Linked DNA regions of Homo sapiens: region 2 is linked to region 1. A link means that fine-mapping ties the variant in region 1 to the expression of a gene that starts in the linked region. Tissue or cell type: whole blood. Region 1 holds a variant in brackets; the other region holds the start of a gene. All regions are shown on one strand. Distances are from middle to middle.

Evidence for each region. PIP is the estimated chance that this variant, and not a neighbour inherited with it, causes the effect.
Region 2: it holds the start of SLC2A4RG, and the variant in region 1 is fine-mapped to the expression of SLC2A4RG in whole blood (TOPMed, PIP 0.94).

What each region holds. Positions count from the first base shown.
Region 1 is chr20:63,760,800-63,768,799 of GRCh38, forward strand. The region is part of intron 3 of ZBTB46 (zinc finger and BTB domain containing 46); the gene reads right to left. Among named protein-coding and RNA genes, the nearest start is that of ZBTB46-AS2, 21 kb to the left of the region's middle. The variant T/C (reference allele first, on the strand shown) is at 3,166.
Region 2 is chr20:63,735,842-63,743,841 of GRCh38, forward strand. It overlaps SLC2A4RG (SLC2A4 regulator), which reads left to right and starts at 3,935. Exons shown (of 8, transcript NM_020062.4): 1 at 3,935-4,197; 2 at 4,536-4,690; 3 at 5,529-5,638; 4 at 6,028-6,215; 5 at 6,289-6,389; 6 at 6,495-6,774; 7 at 6,858-6,949; 8 at 7,038-8,000. The coding sequence starts at 4,072. The coding sequence ends at 7,149. ZGPAT (zinc finger CCCH-type and G-patch domain containing) reads left to right here. Exons shown (of 7, transcript NM_181485.3): 7 at 1-301. The coding sequence ends at 78. It overlaps LIME1 (Lck interacting transmembrane adaptor 1), which reads left to right and starts at 823. Exons shown (of 6, transcript NM_017806.4): 1 at 823-871; 2 at 1,692-1,806; 3 at 1,980-2,061; 4 at 2,132-2,219; 5 at 2,342-2,658; 6 at 2,757-3,262. The coding sequence starts at 1,709. The coding sequence ends at 3,059. ZBTB46 (zinc finger and BTB domain containing 46) reads right to left here. Exons shown (of 5, transcript NM_001369741.1): 5 at 7,829-8,000. It also overlaps ZBTB46-AS2. RefSeq lists enhancers at 249-428, 1,008-1,924, 2,124-2,718 and silencers at 1,859-2,078, 2,149-2,298, 2,379-2,438, 3,443-3,942, 4,193-4,342 and 1 more.

The DNA of each region.
Region 1 (8,000 bases):
GCATTGTTCACTTTCGGTTTTGGGGTTTGCCCAGGCTGGAATGCAGCAGTGCAATCATAGCTCACTGTAACCTTAAACTCCTTGGCCTCAAGCGAGCCTTCTGACTTAACCTCCCGAAGTGCTGGGATTACAGGTGTGCACCACCATGCCAGCTACACTGTTGATTTTTGTATGCCTGCTTTCTACTTCATTGATAGCTCTTTTTTTTTTTTTTTTTCAGATGGAGTCTCGTTCTGACATCCAAGCTGGTGTGTGGTGCCATGATCTCGGCTCGCTGCAACCTCCGCCTCCCAGGTTCAAGCAATTCTCCTGCCTCAGCCTCCCGAGTAGCTGGGATTACAGGCACCCACCACCATACCCGGCTAATTTTTGTATTTTTAGTAGAGACAGGGTTTCACCATGTTGACCAGACTGGTCTCGAACTCCTGACCTCAAGTGATTGACGCACTTCAGCCTCCCAAAGTGCTGGGATTACAGGCATGAGCCACCACACTCACCCTGATATCTATTCTTTATTTCCCTTCTGTTACTTTCTTTGGGCTTAATTTGCTATGCTTTTTCTTCTTGACAAAGAAATTTAGAACCTTTCTTCTGTCCTAATATATAACTAGAGCTGTAAGTTTCCCTTAAATATTGCTTTAGATGTGGGCCTAAAAGTTTTGATACAGCATTTTTTCATTATCATTCAGTTAAAAATATTTTGGCCAGGCACGGTGGCTCACACCTGTAATCCCAGCAGTTTGGGAGTCCGAGGCAGGTGGATCACAAGGTCAGGAGTTCGAGACCAGCCTGGCCAATATAGTGGAACTCTGTCTCTACTAAAAATACAAAAATTATCCAGGCGTGGTGGCCGGTGCCTGTAATCCCAGCTACTCGGGAGGCTGCAGCAGGAGAATCACTTGAACCCCGGAGGCAGAGGTTGCAGTGAGCAGACATCGCACCACTGCACTCCAGCCTGGGTGACAGAGCGAGACTCTGCCTCAAAAAAAAAAAAAAAAGTTTATCATTTCCATAGGGATTTATTCTTTGACTTGAGGGTTGTGTAAACGTATACTATTTGATTTGCAAGCATTTGGGGATATTCTAGTGTCTTCTTGTTACTGATTTCTAATTCCAGTTTGCTAAGGTCAGAGAATATACTCTCTGATTTCAATCCTTTGATATTTGTTGAACCTGAATTATGGCCCTGGTTGGTCTATTTTGGTAAATGTTTCCTGTCCATTTGGAATATCCTGCACTTTTGGTGTAACGTTCAAACTGGGCTAATTGTGCTGTTACAGCCAGTATCTCTATGAACACAGATGCAAGACTCAAACCAAACATTAGCTAACTGAATCCAATAATACAGAAAAAGAATAGCAGCTTGTGACCAGATGTGTTTATTTCCAGGAATTCAAGGTGAATTTAACATTTGAAAACTGTGTTCAAATATTCTCTATCCTTACTGAGATTTTGTTTGCTGTTCTATCAATTACTGAGATAAGTGTTTTAAAACCCCCAATTGTAATTGTGAAGTTATCTCTTTTTTTAGTTCTGCCAGCTTTTACCTCATGTATTTTAAAACTGAGCTGTTGCCGGGCACAGTAGCTCACACCTGTAATCCCAGCACTTTGGGAGGCCGAGGTGGGTGGATCACGAGGTCAGGAGATCGAGACCATCTTGGCCAACATGGTGAAATCCTGTCTCTACTAAAAATACACAAAAAATGAGCCAGGGTGGTGGCACGCGCCTGTACTGCCAGCTACTTGGGAGGCTGAGGCAGGATAATTGCTTGAACCTGGGAGACAGAGGTTGCAGTGAGCCGAGATCGCGCCACTGCACTCCAGCCTGGGCAACAGTGAGACTTCTCTCAAAAAACAAACAAACAAACAAACAAACAAAAAAAAAACCAACTGAGCTGTTAGGAGCAATATGCATTAGGATTGTTATATTTACTACTGAATTGACTAATTATCATTATGCCAGTCCCTCTTGAGTAATACTTCTCAAAGTTTACTTTGATATTAAGATTGCTATACTGACTTTCTTTTTGGTTAGTGTTTGCTTGATTCATCTTTTTCTTTTCTTTTTTTCTTTTGTAGAGATAGGGTGTTGCTCCGTTACCCACGCTGGAGTACAGTGGCACAATCATAGCACATGGTAACCTCAAACTTTTGGGCTCAAGTCATCTCCTGCCTCAGCCTCCCAAGTAGCTTGAATCACTGGTGAGCACCACCAAACCCAGCTAATTATTTAATTCTTTTAGAGATGGGGTCTTGCTAAGTTGCCCAGGCAGGTCTCAAACTCTTGGCCCCAAGTGATCCTCCCACCTTAGCCTCCCAAATTGCTGGGATTACAGGTGTGAGCCACTGTACCCAGCCAATAAATAGTTTTTAAAAACAGGCTATGTGTTTTGTTCATTTTTAATAATGTAATTATTGATGTGGCTGGTGTAAGGCTATCATCTTGTTTTTTATTTGTCCTTTATGCTTTTTGTTCTTATTCCTCCTTTCTTGCCTTCTTTCAAATTAATCACGTATTGTATCGGGCCATTCTTGCACTGCTATAAAGAAATACCTGCAACTGGATAATTTATGAGAAAAGAGGTTTGATTGGCTCACGGTTCTGCAGGCTCTACAGGAAGCATGGTGGCATCAGCTTCTGGGGAGACCTTAGGGAGCTTCCAATCATGGCAGAAGTCGAAGAGGGAGCGAGCGTTTCACAGGACAGGAGCAGGAGCAAGACGGAGGGTCATGGGGGAGGTGCCACACGCTTTTAATCGACCGGATCTTGTGAGACCTCACTATCATGAGGACAGCACTAAGGGGAGGGAGCTAAATCATCCATGGAAGGTCCCACCAGGCACCACGTCCAGTATTGCGGATCACAGTTCAACATGAGATTTGGGTGGGGACAGAGATCCAAACTGTATCAAGAATTATTCCATTTCTTCTCCTCATTGAGCCTTTGAATCACACCACTTTTCCTATTTTCAGTCATCATTCCTGTGACTATAAAGAGTCAGAACCACACGACAGTTAACTCTCATCCACCCCACATGCTAATAGTGTCATATGTTTTGCTTCTATTTAGGTTTAAAAATCCCCCAAATTATAATTGTTGCTTTAAACAATCAAGATTATTTTCTATTACTCACACAGTTGCCTTATCTGGTGCTTTCTTTTT[T/C]CTTTTTCTTTTTTTTTTAAATAAGAGACGGCCTTGCTCTGTCATCCAGGCTGGAGTGCAGCAGTGCAGCCACAACTCACACCAGCCTCGACCTCCTGGGCTCAAGCGATCCTCCCACCTCAGCCTCCCAAGTGGCTGGAACTACAGGCATGAGCCATTACACCCAGCTAATTAAAAAAAAAAATTTATAGGCCAAGCACGGTGGCTCATGCCTGTGATCCCAGCACTTTGTGAGGCCAAGATGGGTGGATCACTTGAGGCCAGGGGTTCCAGACCAGCCTGGCCAACATGGTGAAACCGTCTCTACTAAAAATACAAAAAATCAGCTGGGCATGGTGGCTCACGCCTGTAATCCCAGCTACTGGGGAGGCTGAGGCAGGAGAATCACTTGAACTCGGGAGGCAGAGGTTGCAGTGAGCAGAGATCGCACCATTGCACTCCAGCCTAGGTGACTGAGCGAGGCCCTGTCTCAAAAAAAAAAAAAATTGTGATGAATATTTTTGTTGGGTATAGAGTTCCAGGTTGGCATCTTTTGCTTTCCAGTACTTCAAAGACGTCATTCATTGTCTTCTAGCTTCTGTAGTTTCTGGGAAAGTCAGCCATCACTGTTGTTCTTCTGAATGTTAAGCATTTTTTCTCTGTTTTTTTTTTTTTTGAGACGGAGTTTCGCTCTTGTTGCCCATGCTGGAGTGCAATGGCTCGATCTCAGCTCACCGCATCCTCCACCTCCCAGGTTCAAACAGTTCTCCTGCCTCAGCCTCCCGAGTAGCTGGGATTACAGGTGTGTGCCACCACACCCGGCTAATTTTGTATTTTTAGTAGAGATGGGGTTTCTCCATGTTGAGGCTGGTCTCGAACTCCTGACCTCAGGTGATCTGCCCACCTCGGCCTCCCATAGTGCTGGGATTACAGGTGTGAGCCACTGCACCTGGCCCTCTGGCTGCTTTTAAGATTTTTTTTTGTTTTTCTTTTGAGACGGAGTCTTGCTCTCTCACCCAGGCTGGAGTGCAATGGCGCGGTCTCGGCTCACTGCAACCTCCACCTCCCAGGTTCAAGTGATTCTTGTGTGTGTGTGCGTGCGTGTGTGTGTATGTTTGTATGTGCATGTGTGCGTGTGCATGTGTGCATGTGTATGTGTGGTTGTGTGTGTGTGTGCGTGTGTGTGTGTGTGGGGCTTAGAGGCTTGGGGTGGGGGGCAGTTGTATGCAGAAGCTGGGGTCCTCCTCTTTGTTTCTTGCTTCTTGGGATTTTGCCCCTCAAGTCCCGGCTCCTCTGGCTGCCCCGAAGGACAATCTCTATCTGTACACTGCCGTCCGCTCAGGGTCCACTTCCTGCTCCAGGGTTTGGGAAATATGCCAGCAACACCACTGGGGTGAAGGGCAGCTCATCTGTGTTCTCTCTTCTCTCAAGGATCACAGCGTTGTCCCACCTGCACTGGCCCCCTTCCCGGGTAGGTTATGTGTGGGCGTTTCTTTTCTTTTTTGATACAGGGTCTCACTCTGTGGCCCAGCTGGAGTGCAGTGGTGTAATCATGGCTCACTGCAGCCTCGACCTGCTGTGCCCAAGCGATCCTCCCTCCTCGGCCTGCCGAGTACCTGGGACCACACGTGCACAGCACCACGCTCAGCTAATTTTAAACTTTTTCTGTAGAGACAAGGTCTCCCTATGTTGCCCAGGCTGGTCTTGAACTCTCAGGCTTAAGCAATCCTCCCGCCACAACCTCCCAAAGTACTGGGATTACAGGCATGAGCCATTGCACCCACTTCATATGCTGAATGAATGTCTGTGTAGTTTCAGGGGAAAGAATGTTAGAAGTAGGGATAAAGTCATACTGCTATCTATTCTAAAAATGTTCTTAGAGCCCTTATCATTTTACTATCTGCCACGAGCATATTTTTTTAGGTTCTATGGCACATGTCTACAATTTTTAAATTGTTTTCAAAAAGTTAACCAAACTCTTTCAGCAAAATGGTACGGAGAGAATCTCTACAACCAGGCCTCCTTATCAACCCCCAAGACAACTCTCTCCCCGCTGGGCCCACCTGCTGCCCACCCTGGAGAGCAAAAGGCAAAGCTGTCATGCGGCCTCTGATGTACCTGCTTCAACAGCACTAGGGTGTGCCCTGCCCATGAACGCAGAGCCCAGGCGTGGACTAATCTCACAGTCAGATGCCACAAGTTTCTTCTGTCATGGTGCCCAGGTTGAGACATATCATCTCAGGCCCAACAGCTGAGAGATCCTTTTTTTTTTTTTTTTTTTTTTTTTTTGAGAGGGAGTTTCGCTCTCGTTGCCCAGGCTGGAGTGCAATGGCATGATCTCTGCTCACTGCAACTTCCGCCTCCCGGGTTCAAGTGATTCTCCTGCCTCAGCCTCTCAAATAGCTGGGATTACAGGCGCCCGCCACCACGCCCAGCTAATTTTTCTATTTTTAGTAGAGATACGATTTCGCCATGTTGGCCAGGCTGGTCTAAAACTCCCGACCTCAGGTGATCCGCCCACCTTGGCCTCCCAAAGTGCTGGGATCACAGGCATGAGCCACTGCACCTGGCCAAGAGATCCCATTTTGACCAAAAAAAAAAAAAAAGCTTCATTTTCTCTACAACTGATATTAAAACTCCAACAGGCATTTGCATAAAGAGGCGTCTGGCAGCTCAGAAGGCACGGCCTGTGTGGACTGCTCTCCCGACCCTCACAGATGCCAGCAGAGCGCGGTCACCTTTGGTAAAATGCCCCAAACCTCACTAGAAATCCCACTTTTCTCCATCTTCAGAAACTCATCTCAGGAACATAAAGGAACATAAAGATTTGAGGAACCAGGGGAGGCTCCAGCAGATGGTTCCAGCTGCAGTGGAGATGGGGACCGTCCGGAAAGGGGATGGGCTGTTGGGCAGATGGTGGGACGCGTCTCTGGCCTGGGAGCGGGCTCCCCCGACACGCCACCTTCCCTGCCAGATGGTGCTTCTGGGTATTCCAGAATCTGGAATGGGGGATGCCTATCCCCCTCCTGAGCCCACCTGCTGCTCTGGGTCCCTGGAGCCCACCAAGTCCACAACCACCTGCTCTGAATAGAAAGCTGACATTGAACCTAACACGTCCGACGAGGACGGGCAAGGGCACCGCGGGGCGCTCTTTCTGAAAAGCAGCACATTCCCGTAATTCCACGCCGACACGTGGAGCGCCGCGCACATGCCAGGCACACACCGCCAAGGACGCCGTGGCAGGCTTTGTCTTTCGATCTCCCTAGAAAGTTGCTGGGTCGGAGCCACGTGGCTCCACTTCCCACGGATGGGGACATGTTTTCCCGCCCCTGAAAGCCCCCCGTCCCCACACATTGGCAATCCCGTAGGATCTCGGTCATCTGAACCCCGTCGGGCAGAAGCTGGAGGTCCACCCGCCCCAGCTGCCCACCGGCTGGGCATGGAGATGCCTTCACCTGGCAGCAGCCGGCAGAGGACTCGAGAAATGACCACAGAAAGGCACACACCGGCTCCCAGTCACAGCTCTCCGCAGATATCCCCCTCCGACGCGGCTGTTCGGTCACCCAGTTCCCCTCCTGCTCCCACACACTTGAGAGCTCTCTCGCCTGGGCAGCTGCACCCAGCTGGAGCCCGGGACCCGGACGCCAAAGCTCTGGCCGCAGCACTGAGGTCAAAGCAAACGCCGGCTCCAGCGCACAGACCAGAGGCACCCGCAGTTCTGTCCCAAACCACTTCCAGCAGGGGAGGTGCCTTCGCTGCTGTCACTTGCTTCACAGAGCTCCTTAGCTGGCCTCAGGGTAAAGCTGTCAGCGCCCAAGGAGCTCCAGGCGAGGCCAAGCCGTCCTGGCACTGGCTGCCCCCAGGGCTGGGCAAGTCCATCCAGGGCTGGGCAAGTCCATCCAGGCCTGGGCTGGAAGAAGACTCCTCAGGCATCCTGGACAGGCCACAGGCCCTGCAGAAACCCACCCTCATGCCAGCGGGAGCCAACTCTGGAAGAGGACTGCTCCGCCCAGCTCTCCACGCCATGAGAGGTGTCGATCTGGAACCAGAGACAGACAAGTTACAGACCGTCAGGATGGGATAAAAGCAGCAAGACTTCTAGTGTGGACACTCTGCTGCCCTCACTCACCTGGGATGTTGTCCAATCACTACTAAGACAGCCTGTCAACAGCCATCTGGAAAGGAAGACTGTAATTAATTCTCAATAAAGAGACACTCAAAAATATATGCATTAACAAAACATTAACACCTGCCACCAAAACTATCCTGTGAGAAATGAGAAACGACTCGTGTGGGAATAGCAATTAATTTCAAAATCCAAAATGTGTGGTTAAGGCTGGGCACCGAGGCTCATCCTAGCACTTTGGGAGACCAAGGAGGCTCATGCCTGTGATCCCAGCACTTTGGGAGGCCGAGGCAGGCGGATCACCTGAGGTCAGGAGTTCAAGACCAGCCTGGCCAACATGGTGAAACCTCATCTCTACTAAAAACACAAAAATTAGCCAGGCGTGGTGGTGTGCCCAACGGGATACCCTAACCTGTAATCCCAGCTACTTGGGAGGCTGAGGCAGGAGAATCTCTTGAACCCCGAAGGTGGAGGTTGCAGTGAGCTAAGATCGCACCACTGCACTCCAGCCTGGGTGACAAAGCCAGACTCTGTCTCAAAAGAAAAAAAAAAAAAGTGGTTGAGCTCTTGTTAAAGAATTTTTTTTTCTCCAGGGAGGTACACACCCCATGGCCCTTTCTTTATAGAAAAGACTCCGCGACTTCAGGCACAGGAAGGAGAATGCCTTCCACCAGGGCTCTGCGCGGCTCGGGCTGGGGCAGTGGAACGGCTTCCACCAGGGCTCTGTGAG
Region 2 (8,000 bases), 25 kb before region 1:
CAGCTCCGGGCTCAGGAAGCCGGCCTGCAGCAGGAGCAGAGGAAGGCAGACACCCACAAGAAGATGACTGAGTTCTAGAGACCCCACAAGCACTATGGACGAAGCGTGGGACCCCAGCACGGGCTGCCCTCAGGAAGACCAGTGTTGCCCGAGGAGGGGCCGGCCTGCTGGCCTGGGGCGTGCAGACACTGCTGAGTGGAGACAGAGCTGCGGGGTCCCATCTGGACACTTACTTGCCCACCTGCCAGTGTCTTGGGCATTTCCTTGGCAAGGACATTAAAGTGATTTCATCACAGTGTCATTCAGTGGAGATCAGCTGGCTGCAGGGTCTCTGGGGAGAGAAGGGTCTGTGCAGGGCTGTGGTGAGAGACGGGCTGGGCTGGAGGGGCCTAGGAGGCCGGCATTCTCCCTTCTTACCCTTCTCTGACCAAGGCAGATCGGAGGCCAGGGTGCCCGCCAGGCTGCCTGACACCCACAGATGGGTGGAGCTCAGTGCTGCTCCAGCGGGCGAGACGGGCGGGAGAGGACTGTGGCCCACCACGTGGGGCACTCTTGGTGAGGCAGGCGGACCTGGCCCTGTGGGTTTGGGGGTTCTGTGCCAGCTCTGCTCACGTCTTCGTGTGTGGAGGGGTTGTGAGTTAGGCTGTCAGAACAGTGCGGGCTAGAGGCGCACACGTTTCATCTAGGCTTCGGGCGGGGCGCAGCAGGTGGGTGAGGCTGCGGTGGTGGCTGCTGCCCAGGGTGGGAGGCTCAGGGGAGGCGCTTGGCGACAGGAGCAGGAAGTGATGAGGTGGGGAGCTCAGCCGAGGGCTGCACAAAGACCTTCCTGGCCTGCCCCAGACAGAGCTGAGGACCCCTGGCCGTGGGCTTGGTAAGTGCCCTCCTGGGGGGCAGCTGGGGTCTGGGAGGCCTTGGGATGTGGCTGCAGCTGGGTCAGTCAGCCAGGCTGAAGCCCACTCCCTGGGTCTGAGCAGACTGGCCCCAAACTCCAGAGACCACCCCTCACCCCCCAGCTTCTGTCTCTGCTGCTGGACTGTGCTGTTTGTAAGGCATCCCCCACCCCGAGAAGTTCTGCTAAGATCCCCAAGAAGGGGACAGATCCTCTCTGGCAGAGACACTGGCAGACAAGAAGAGCCAGAGAGAAGTGGGGTGGGGGCATCAGCACCCCCAGCAGCTGCTGCTGCCTGCTGACCCAGCCTCCAGCTCCTCCGGGTGCAGGGTCCCTCCTGCTGACCAGCCTCCAGCTCTTCCCAGTTCTGGGCTCCGCAGCGAGCGGCTTGGGGGCACTACCTGACACAGGAGACCATGTCTGGGCAGAGGGTGGCTGCAGGTGGAGTCTGTGGCCTGTGGCGCACACCCAGGGGCTCCCCCGATGCTGGTTACTATCTGGGCTATGGTGGCCACAGCTGTCTTGCCCCTCCTCACGGCCGTGCTGGGTGTTACCGTGGTCACCCGCAGGGACACGGAGGGGCCAGGCAGAGCAGCCCTAGTTCACCTCACCGGGAGCCCCCGCCAGAAGGTGGGCACCTCTGGGAGGGAGGGACTGCCAGGCCTTGGGGCTTCCTGTGCTGAGTCAGAGCTGGAACGGGAGACGCAGGAGCCCCGCAGCCGCGGGAGGTGCAGATTTGGGGCTGCCAGGTGGCGCCAGGTCCCCTTGGCCAGCCCCCAGCGCCCCTTTCTTCTGTCCCCAGGGCCTCGGCTTCACAGGATGGGGCTGCCAGTGTCCTGGGCCCCTCCTGCCCTCTGGGTTCTAGGGTGCTGCGCCCTGCTCCTCTCGCTGTGGGCGCTGTGCACAGCCTGCCGCAGGTAGGTCCCTCAGCCGCGTTCTGTCTGGGGCCTCGCTGCGGCTGCCATTCACAGCCCAGCGCGGGAAGGGGCTGGAGGCAGGTCCGCGCACCCAGCTCGGCACGCGCGCCTGCACCGGGCCTTGGACCCGAGGCTGACGACCCCGCCCCCCGCCCCCCACCTCTACCCCCAAGGCCCGAGGACGCTGTAGCCCCCAGGAAGAGGGCGCGGAGGCAGCGGGCGAGGCTGCAGGGCAGTGCGACGGCGGCGGAAGCGGTGAGTGCCAGGCTGTCCCGGGGACCAGGGTGGGGTCCGCAGGGCACCGACCAGCCTTCCTCGCCCCCAGTCCCTACTGAGGCGGACCCACCTCTGCTCCCTCAGCAAGTCGGACACCAGACTGCACGAGCTGCACCGGGGCCCGCGCAGCAGCAGGGGTGAGCAGAGGGCGGGGCGGGGGCGGCCGGGCGGGGCTTACTGTGCAGCGCGTGCCAACCCCTGGGCCAGACCCGCTCCTGCCCCCTGCCCGGAGTGAACTCTGCCCTGACCCCACCCCCAGCCCTGCGGCCTGCCAGCATGGATCTCCTGCGCCCACACTGGCTGGAGGTGTCCAGGGACATCACCGGACCGCAGGCAGCCCCCTCTGCCTTCCCACACCAGGAGCTGCCCCGGGCTCTGCCGGCAGCTGCAGCCACCGCAGGGTGCGCTGGCCTCGAGGCCACCTATTCCAACGTGGGGCTGGCGGCCCTTCCCGGGGTCAGCCTGGCGGCCAGCCCTGTGGTGGCCGAGTATGCCCGCGTCCAGAAGCGCAAAGGGACCCATCGCAGTCCCCAAGAGCCACAGCAGGGGAAGACTGAGGTGACCCCGGCCGCTCAGGTAACGTGGGCCAGGGTAGGGCGCTGTGGGTGGGGCCGGCAGATCCTCAGCAGGTTGGATGGTGCTGACCCCTCCTCGGGTTGGCTTCCTGTCTCCAGGTGGACGTCCTGTACTCCAGGGTCTGCAAGCCTAAAAGGAGGGACCCAGGACCCACCACAGACCCGCTGGACCCCAAGGGCCAGGGAGCGATTCTGGCCCTGGCGGGTGACCTGGCCTACCAGACCCTCCCGCTCAGGGCCCTGGATGTGGACAGCGGCCCCCTGGAAAACGTGTATGAGAGCATCCGGGAGCTGGGGGACCCTGCTGGCAGGAGCAGCACGTGCGGGGCTGGGACGCCCCCTGCTTCCAGCTGCCCCAGCCTAGGGAGGGGCTGGAGACCCCTCCCTGCCTCCCTGCCCTGAACACTCAAGGACCTGTGCTCCTTCCTCCAGAGTGAGGCCCGTCCCCCGCCCCGCCCCGCCTCACAGCTGACAGCGCCAGTCCCAGGTCCCCGGGCTGCCAGCCCGTGAGGTCCGTGAGGTCCTGGCCGCTCTGACAGCCGCGGCCTCCCCGGGCTCCAGAGAAGGCCCGCGTCTAAATAAAGCGCCAGCGCAGGATGAAAGCGGCCAGCCTCGCAGCCTGCTCTTCTTGAAAGCTGGGCGGGTTGGGGCGGGGGGCTTCTCTGGAAGGCTTGGAGCTGTCCCCTCTGGCCTTGGGGGACTGGCTGCCCCCGGGGCGCCCGGGCCTAGCCGAGGCGGTGCTCCTGCCGGCCAGACTCTCGGTCAGTGCGGGCACGGGGTCCCAGCCACTCCTAGGGGGCAGCGCAGCCGGCAGGGTGGCCGCCCCCGGGTGGGACTTGGACCCTGGACTCCACGGGAGGGCTCCGCCACCCAGCCTGGTGTTACATAAGGGGTGGTGGAGGTGGGCAGTCGAGCGTTAAAGAGTAACCTGCTGCCGGGAAGCCCGCCAAGCAATCGCGGCCCCTTCCCCGGCTCTGGCAGCTCTGCGAGCGCGCCCGTGGGGAACGGGCCCTCCCCGGCGGGGCGCGCGGGCGCGCGAGGTGGGCGGAGGCCTCGGAGCTGTGCCGGGCCGGGCCTCCCTCCCTAGGCCAGCGCGGGAGCGACCCGGAGGGGGCGGGCCCGGGGCGGGGCCTCGAAGCGCTGGCCGGCGGGAGCGCGGCCGGCCGGGCCCGCCCGCCTGCGGTGTGGACGCCGCGCGGCCAATGCGCGCGCCGGGACGGGACGGGACGGGGCGGGGCGGGGCGGGACGAGACGGGGCGGGGCGGGGCGGGCCGGGCAGCCTCCGGGCGGCGCGGCGCGGGCGGCGGCCGGATCCAGGGCGGGGGTCGGCGGCCCGGCCAGCCCGGCCCGGCCCGGGGCCGCGTCCTGAGAGTCAGCCCTCGCCGCTGCAGCCTCGGCGCCCGGCCGGCCGGCCATGGAGCGCCCCCCGCCCCGCGCCGCCGGCCGGGACCCCAGTGCGCTGCGGGCCGAGGCGCCGTGGCTGCGCGCGGAGGGTCCGGGGCCGCGCGCCGCGCCCGTGACGGTGCCCACGCCGCCGCAGGTACCGGGCGCCGGTGGGCGGGGGCGCCGACCAAGTTTCTCTCGCTGCAAAGATGGCGTCAGTGCTGCCCAAACTTCGGGCCCCCGGGGGCGGGGCAGCGGGGAGGGCGGCCGCGTCGGTCCGCGCGTGTCCGTGGGTCCCGCCGGGGCTGCGCCGGGCGGCCGGGGAGCCCTTCCCGCCGCGCCGGGCTGGGGGCGGGGCCGGGGGCGGGGCCGCGCCGTCCACACCGGCCGCAGCCGGTTTTCGAGGCGGGCGCCGAGCGGATCCGCGGCGGAGGTTGAGGGACCCCCCTCCCCCGGCCACCGCCTCCGCTGAGTCTGCCCCCTCCCCATCCGCAGGGCTCTTCCGTGGGCGGCGGCTTCGCGGGCTTGGAGTTCGCGCGGCCGCAGGAGTCGGAGCCGCGGGCCTCGGACCTGGGGGCCCCCCGGACGTGGACGGGGGCGGCGGCGGGGCCCCGGACTCCGTCGGCGCACATCCCCGTCCCAGCGCAGAGGTGAGCGGGAGGCCCGGTGCCTCGGGACTCGGTGTGCGCAGGGGCGGTGGGTGGGGTGCGGAGACACCGGCCCCGACGGAGGCCAGGTCAGGGCCCCAGGTTTGTAATTACCAGCCACCCCCAAGCTCTTCAGCCCTGGAGGAGCTGAGCAGAAATGATCGATGACTGGGAGTCCCTACACCTCCCTCCACCGCAGTTCCTCGGGGCTAGAGCTCAGAACCCGGAGCGGGTGGCTGTGCGTCTCTGTGCAGAAGAGGCTGCGCGGTCGGCATGGGGCGACTGTCCAGGAATCCCTGGGGCTCCTGACCGCCACCTCCCAACCCCTGCCAGGCCGGACACCTCGGTCTGGCTGCCAGGGCAGGGGCGGGCCCTGGCCTGGCTCGCTGGGGCCTGGGGAGCTGCCCGTGCTTCCAGCCCAGTCTCCCCCTGGCTGCTGCCGGCTGCTGGCCACTCCCACCTCCCAGGCCTGGCGTGAGGCCCACAGCTGCTGTTGCACAACCCTGGTTAATGTGTGATGGGGGGAGGCCTGGGCCTGGCCCGCCCCTCTGCCAGGGCTTCAGACCCCTGCCCAGCCCCAGTATCTGAAGGAACCACAGTGGAGCCAAGCCCGCGATGTGGAGAACTCAGGCTTCAGGAGACCCTGGCCCTGCTCCTGGCGGCTCCGGGTGGCTTTCAGCTCTCTCTGCAACCTGAGCTGGGGGAGGAGCCAGGCCTCATGCCCAGGGCTGGGAGTGGGGAGCCTGGTGTGCACGCGTGCCCAGGCCTGCACGTGGACCGACCAGGGGAGGGGCCCAGAGCTCTGGCTGGGTCACCCGCACCCCGCCCCCATCTCCTCCAGAGCCACCCCAGGAAAAGCCCGGCTGGACGAGGTCATGGCTGCCGCTGCCCTTACAAGCCTGTCCACCAGCCCTCTCCTTCTGGGGGCCCCGGTTGCAGCCTTCAGCCCAGGTAAGACTCAGATGTCTGCATTTAGGGGTGTGGGTGGGGACAGGGCTCAGAACCTACAGCCACCCAGCCTCTGTGGGGCAAGCAGAGCCCTCAAACCTGGGACTCCTTTCTAAAATGGACTCCCGCACCCTCAGTGCCCCCTACTGAGGCCAAAGCGGCAGGACCCAGGCCTTCTGGCCTCCCTGACCTGCTCACCTCCACGCGGCTGGCCACACACGTCTGCCAACCCTTTCCTGTGCCGGGGGGGTTTCTCCCCAAGCCCTGGGGCCAGCTCCTCCAAGACGCTCTGCCCACCAGTCTCACCGGACTTGGTGAACAGGGGCAGCTCAGGATTAGGGACTCCCTGGACCCACCCGAAGTTCTAAGGCGGGGGGCCCGTGTCCCCACAGAGCCTGGCCTGGAGCCCTGGAAGGAGGCCCTGGTGCGGCCCCCAGGCAGCTACAGCAGCAGCAGCAACAGTGGAGACTGGGGATGGGACCTGGCCAGTGACCAGTCCTCTCCGTCCACCCCGTCACCCCCACTGCCCCCCGAGGCAGCCCACTTTCTGTTTGGGGAGCCCACCCTGAGAAAAAGGAAGGTGAGCTTGGGGGCGGCCCCCAGGGAGGGGCGGGTGTGGCGGCTGAGCCTGACCCTGGCCCCTGTTGCTGCAGAGCCCGGCCCAGGTCATGTTCCAGTGTCTGTGGAAGAGCTGCGGGAAGGTGCTGAGCACGGCGTCGGCGATGCAGAGACACATCCGCCTGGTGCACCTGGGGTGCGGCGGGGCCTGGGGTGCGGCGGGGCCTGCGGGTTGGCTGGGGTTGTGAGGCCCGGCCAGGCCACCCCTTCAGCTCCCACTGGCTGGCTGTGTCTCCCGCAGGAGGCAGGCAGAGCCTGAGCAGAGTGATGGTGAGGAGGACTTCTACTACACAGAGCTGGATGTTGGTGTGGACACGCTGACCGACGGGCTGTCCAGCCTGACTCCAGTGTCCCCCACGGCCTCCATGCCGCCTGCCTTCCCCCGCCTGGAGCTGCCAGAGCTGCTGGAGCCCCCAGCCCTGCCTAGTCCCCTGCGGCCGCCTGCCCCGCCCCTGCCCCCGCCCCCTGTCCTGAGCACCGTTGCTAACCCCCAGTCCTGTCACAGTGACCGTGTCTACCAGGTGGGTGAGGCCACGGGTGGCAGCTGGGGCGGGTCTCAGGGCTCTCTGGAGGGGAGTGAAGCCCTGGCTGTGTCTCCCTGTAGGGCTGCCTGACGCCCGCCCGCCTGGAGCCGCAGCCCACGGAGGTCGGAGCCTGCCCACCCGCCTTGTCCTCCAGGATCGGAGTCACCCTGAGGTGCGTGTGGGCTGAGGGCCTGCGGCTGGCACCAGGTGGGGAGGGTCCTGGTCTCACAGCACCCCATGTCCTGTGACCCCCCGCACAGGAAGCCCCGCGGCGACGCGAAGAAGTGCCGGAAGGTGTATGGCATGGAGCGCCGGGACCTCTGGTGCACAGCCTGCCGCTGGAAGAAAGCCTGCCAGCGGTTCCTGGACTAAGTCCGGCTCGTTCAAGAACATAAGCTACCACCTTCTCCCTCCCCACCCCCTCCAGGCCCGGGGCTGAAACAGCCCGAGGACAGCCCCAGGGGCTGGCTTTCACCAGCTGCAGGGTCTGCTTTTACTTGGGGTGGGGGGGCGGGGCTGACCCTGAACCCTCCCCCCCGCCAGGTCGGGGAGGGGTCCCACCACTCAAAGTGCCTCTAAAGAAACCAGCTTTTTGCACTAAAGCCAAACCACACCGCTGTCCCCTTAGCCCCAAGGGCCCTGGGGGCAGCCACCCTCCCGCCTGTCGGCCCGTAGATTTATCAAGGGTGTTATGGGCCCAGCTTTGGGGGGCCAGTCCCGATGCACTTTGAGGGGTGTTGGAGAGGGGACTCCCCCACTCGCACTTAACTCAACGGCTCTCGGGCCCTGGGGCTGTTTTTACCATGTTTGTTTTTGAAGCTCAGGTGTCTCACGTCTGGGCTGCACCAGGCGAAGAGAGAAATTAAAGATTTGAGGTTTTTCCAGAAGCTTTGTCTGCCTCTCGGGAGGAAGGCCGTGGGGCTGGGACCCTGTGGTGGGCAAGTGGGTGGAGTCTGGCAGCTGCCCACAGAGGGCCGAGGGTCACCCGTCGGCCGCCGCCACCCCAGGCGAGGCCGGAGGAAGGATCATCTGAGACGCAGGAGGCATCTGCTGGAGCAGCAATTTCCCAATTTATTGAAAGTGATCGCTTTGCAAGGATGTCTAAGCTAATCCCGTCACAGAAAGGAAACGCACAGGCGCCTAGGCAGAAACTTGGAGACTCACCGCAGAGGCCACGTGAACCCACGGCCACAGAGAGGCAGGACGGCAGAGCCATGATTTCC